Linked DNA regions of Homo sapiens: region 1 is linked to region 2. A link means that fine-mapping ties the variant in region 2 to the expression of a gene that starts in the linked region. Tissue or cell type: thyroid. Region 2 holds a variant in brackets; the other region holds the start of a gene. All regions are shown on one strand. Distances are between the middles of the regions.

Region 1 (2,500 bases), 220 kb after region 2:
GTTCTGAGCCCAGGGGACCCCAGGGCACCATCCCAGCACCCAAACATGATGGCCTCTGTGGGAGCAAACTTCATACTCCAAAATCAGTGAAGAACTAAGATCAGGGGGTGAGGGCATAGACCTGGTCCTTGCCTCTGTTCCCAACCCCTAGGGAGGTGGGACAGGTGCCTCCCTTTCCGGGCCTTAGTTTTACTGTTTAGATAAGAGGTCCCTCTACCTGTGAGCAGCTGGGGGATGCAGCCTGGAGGATGAGTAGCACACAGAATCAGATCAGTGACCTGAGAGGGTGTGGCGTGGACTTGGGCAGACAATTCTTAGGGGTTACAGTGATGTGGAATTGAGCTCTCTGGACTAGCCAAGCACAGGCTGTTGCAGCCCATTCCATTCCATTCATTTATTCCTTCCACAAACATGGCAGGCACCGCCCTGTGCCCAAAACAAACAAGAGGCTGAATCTGCCTAGTATGGGAGGATAAATCGAACAAGCACATAGAAAACCAAATGCAAAGTAAGACTTGGTGAGTGAGCCAAGAGAGCTTCCCTAAACTCCTCCTGTCCTCCCAATCACAGCGTCTTAAGCCCACTTCCCGGATGAGAAAACGGAGGCTCAGAGTCAAGACCCTGCTGCCTGGGGCGCGCCCAGACCTTGTGGCTAGCCAGAAGCGAGGTTTCGGATTCCCACAGTCTCGGGCCACTGTCCCAAGCTGCCCAAAGCTGGGGAGGCCCCGTCCAGCTCCCGGAAGGCTGTAGGGAGGTGAGCGCCAGGGAGGGGCTGGGCCGCAGGACGCGGGGGCCAGGAGGCAGGGAGGGGCCGGGCGGGGGGCGGTCGGGAGACATCCAGCGCCCCGATGTGCAGCCCCAGGCACCCGGAGCGCCAGCGCCTGGGTGCGCGCGAGTGGTAGCCGCGCTCCGGTGGGTCCGCCGCGGTCGGACCGGGGTCTGGGCTCCAGGCGCCGGCGGGGGGCGGTGGGGGGGGTAGGGGGACAGCGAGGGCCGCGCTGCAGTGCCCGCAGCGGCGGGTTGGGGGAGCTGTGCCCGCCTGTCCCCTAGGCCCGGGCGGCGGCCGGGCAGCTGGGTCGCCGCGCCTCTAGCCGGGCCGGGCTCGGCGGCGCGCAGCCAGGCGTGCCTGGAGCGGGCTCGGGCCCCAAGTCCTCCGGAGCGCCCAGCCGGGGAGGCCCCGGGAGCAGCCCAGTCCCGCGGGCTAAGGCGGCAGCCGCCGCCGCTCCGGCCCGCCCCCGGGGGGGTGTCCCGGGCCGCTGGGCCCGCCCAGGTAACCCCATCCTCGGCCCGCCCCCGGCCCGCCCCCCCGGCCGCCCGCCCGCCCGCCCGCCTCCGCCGCCGCCGCCGCCGCCGCCGCCGCCGCATCCCGGCTCTGGGGCGGCGCTGACAGTCTGGTCCGCGCCGGGCAGCGGGCGCAGCAGCGGGCAGGCTGCCGGCAGGCACACGGAGGCAGAGCCCCGCCGCGCGCGCCCCGGCCCGCCCGCGGGCGCCCACCTGCAGCCCCGACGGGAGGCCCCCCGCGGCCGCAGCCGCTGCCCCGGGCCGGGCGCCCGCGGCGGCACCATGAGTCCCCGCTCGTGCCTGCGTTCGCTGCGCCTCCTCGTCTTCGCCGTCTTCTCAGCCGCCGCGAGCAACTGGCTGTAAGTCTGGCCGGGGCCGAGCGGGGCGGGGCGGGGCGGGGCAGGCCCCGGGGGCAGCGGCCGGTGCCAGGCGGCGCGGGGCAGCGGGCGCGGGGCAGCCCGGCAGGTGTCTCGGCCGCGGGACCGGAGGCTCGCTCGCTCCGCTGCCGCCGCCACGGCCCGAACGTCCCTCTGCACACCCGGGGTCCCCTCCTGCCCGGGTCCGGCTCCCTGCCCAGAGGCGTCAGGGGTGGCTGTGGCGGCGTCCGCACCGGTAGGCGGCTCGGGGCTCTCGAGGGCGCCAGGGGTGCGAGCGCGGGGCGGTGGCCCGGGAGGGGCGCCGGACGCGGGTTGCAGTCCAGCCGGGCTGACAGGTCGCTGAGGAAGCCCATTGCAGGGAAGGGCTCCGGGACATAATAGCAGGTTAATCCCGAGAAGTCCGGAGCGAGCTCCCAGCGCCGAGCTGCGCCGAGCTGCGCCGCGCTGCGGGCTGGGCTGGAGGCGTGCAGGGACCTGTTTCTGCTTGGGGGGCGGGAGCCGGAGACAGAAGGAAGGGACCAGGACGCCTGGTCTCCCAGGGCCCGGGGCTGGCGCTGGCGCTGGCCGGGCCTTGGTTTTTCCCCGGGGCAGGAAGAAACTCCGTCCAGACCTTAAAGAAGACAACGGCCCCCCAGCTCCCCGTGTCTAGCCTAAGGAGGAAGGGGTGGTAACCGCTGGTGACCTGTCTGTTTCTCCTTGACTGGATCTGCGCTCAGGGCGCTCCCTGGGTAGGGGCGGAAGGTTTGCTGCAGGGAGGGAGACTAAAGGGATGAGCTCCAGTGAGTGGGTGGACAGGGAGCAAGCGGACCCGCGCTCCTTTCATCCCCGCTCAGGGACAGTTC
Region 2 (2,500 bases):
TATAAGGATATATCTGAGACTGGGTAATTTATAAAGGAAAGAGGTTTAATTGAATCACAGTTCCGCAGGGCTGGGGAGGCCTCAGGAAACTTACAATCATGGCGGAAAGGGAAGCAAACACTTCCTTCACTTGGTGGCAGCAAGGAGATGTGCAGAGCGAAGCCGGCGAAAGCCCCTTATAAAGCCATCAAATCTCGTGAGAACTCGCTCACTACCACGAGAACAGCATGGAGGTAACCGCCCCCATGATTCAATTACCTCCCAGGGGGTCCCTCCCATGACATGTGGGGATGATGCAAACTACAGTTCAAGATGAGATTTGGTTGGGAACACAGCCAAACCATGTCAGACAGGAAAGGCAGGCATGGGGGAAGGGGCGTCTTTGGGAGAAGCCATAGTCCAATGCCACGGAAAGAGGCCACCAGCAGTGAGTGTCCTGAAACATCACAGGGCTCTGATGGACGGGAGAACCCAGGTCTGCGGAGGCACAGGTGGGTGGGGCACATGGGACAGGGCTACCTGGGCAGGCAGAAAAGTTCCTGAGGGCGGAAAAGTTGCATGAACTTGGGCCTGGAGTCTGTTTAGAGCAGGTAGTGGTGGGTGGTAAGGACTGTCTCCTATTAGTGATGCCTACTCACTGTGCAAAATGAAGAAAAGCAGATGAACAGAAGGAGTAGAGTAAAACTGAACTCCAATCCCACCACCATTCAGAAATAGAGTTGAGATGGTGATATTTTTTTCTGTGTGTGGGGGGGCGTGCATTTTTGCGAATCAAATTGGGATCACGCAGCTATATTATTTGGCAACTTGCTTTGATGTTCATGCAATACAATGTGCCATGAACATTTTTCCATGTTGTAAGCATAGCTTGGCGGCTCCAAGCATGAACAGTGAAGTCCTGGGTCAAAATCGGTCCAACCACTTGGATCAGGTAGTTACCATCTTCTCTGAGCCTCACTTCCTGTATCTGTATGAGGAGAGAAAAGTGAGGCCTCTATCAAAGGGCAGGCCAGAGCCCCCTGCAGGACCAGCTCTCCAGCTCAGCCTTGCCTCACCCCACTCCAACCAGCGGCCATTTTCCTAAGTACCTGGCAGCTTCTCCCTTAGCCTGGAATGCCCCTGCCCCACTTGCTTGGACGACACTTACTCTTCTTTGAATAATCAGAGCAACCTTGAGGATTAAATGAAGCAAGGTGATGTATATAGACAGGGTACCTAGCGCAATGACCGGCACATCTCAGGAGCTTACTTTTCTACAGTATCTTTGTTGATGGCTGCTGAATGTATGATGAATTTCCCTATTCCAATGTATGATGAATTTCCCTCATTTGCTCAATAAATCTCTATTGCTGGACATTTAAGAAGTTCCCAGCTTTTTGCTTCTCTGAAAACACAACTGCTTGCTTCAATCATTGAAAGAAGA[T/G]CAAGTGCCCTCCAAGTAGGTGCGGCAGGGACATTCCAGGCTAAGGGGGCAGCAAGAAGCAGCCAGGCGCTCAGGGTAGGGGGTGAGGCAAGGCTGAGCTGGAGAGACAGACAGGAGTCAGGTCTGGCAGTGAGGATGTGGGCTGCGTCAGAGCTTAAACACTGGCCTCTGGGTGACAAGCCTGGCCGGGGATTAAGTAGAGTGAAATTGCCGCTCTTTGCAGGCCAGAGGGCAGGCCAAGGAATGAAGAAATGGGGAGGGACATGTGGAAACATTGGGGTGATAAAGAGAAGAGAGGTGGAGGCAGGGAGAGGATGCGAGCCTGGCACTGCTCTGAGACTATCTCAGTTCTGCTACTTAGTAGCTGTGTGACTGTGGGCAAGCTACTTAACCTCTCTGTGCCTTAGTTTCCTCATCTAGACATGAACTACCTCTACCTCTTGGGATTGTGGTGAGGGGTAAATGAGTTAATGTGGATGATCCCTGGACCATGCCCGACAAACAGCAAGTGCCCTGTGTGTTAGCAATTATTATGATGATTCCATTATTGTAGAAGACAGGGGGAGAGGGGCTGCTTCGCAACGGCCTTGCAGTCACCAGGTTGAGCACACATAGGAGCAGGTGGCCCAAGTCGCCCAGGTGTGGTAGTTTCAGTGCTGCTTCCCCAGTTGGCTCCTTGTCCACAGGTCCACAGCGATGGCACAGCAGCAGCTCCAGGTCCTGGAGGACAGCCCGGCTGGGCTCTCTGCCTCCTGACTTCTCCTCTTGGTTGTCTGAACTCCTTCGCTTCCTGACATCTCCCCCAGCCCTGCCCTTTCAGCTCTTCTTTATCTACCCTGTCCGCTCTTTCCTGTGGATTCTGATCCTCAGACGATGGGGCCTGGAGTGTGGCTGGGGAGGCCTTCATGGTGGTCTGGGATTTGGCTGGAGTATTCACAGCAGCCAGCCAGGTGCAGATAGCATCTTTTGCCCTGGGAGAAGTAGCCTCTTCTACTGTACCATGCTGAAAGAGTGTCTGTTCTTCCTCACTTCAAATGATGTTGAAAAGGCCCTTTCTGTTGCCTTAGCCTCAGGAGA

Which allele goes with the higher level. Alleles are on the strand shown, and positions count from the first base shown. SD is a standard deviation of normalised expression in the study named.
For the expression in thyroid of the gene that starts at base 1,389 in region 1, T is the high allele of the variant in region 2 and G is the other (moderate effect, 0.43 SD a copy in GTEx).

The links. PIP is the estimated chance that this variant, and not a neighbour inherited with it, causes the effect.
Region 1: WNT4 starts here. The variant in region 2 is fine-mapped to the expression of WNT4 in thyroid (GTEx, PIP above 0.99).

The regions. Positions count from the first base shown.
Region 1 is chr1:22,141,986-22,144,485 of GRCh38, reverse strand. WNT4 (Wnt family member 4) reads left to right here and starts at 1,389. Exons shown (of 5, transcript NM_030761.5): 1 at 1,389-1,640. The coding sequence starts at 1,564. All of the region lies in intron 1 of LOC105376845 (a long non-coding RNA gene), which reads right to left. RefSeq lists silencers at 970-1,299, 1,862-1,921.
Region 2 is chr1:22,363,489-22,365,988 of GRCh38, reverse strand. No RefSeq gene overlaps it. Among named protein-coding and RNA genes, the nearest start is that of ZBTB40, 87 kb to the left of the region's middle. The variant T/G (reference allele first, on the strand shown) is at 1,424.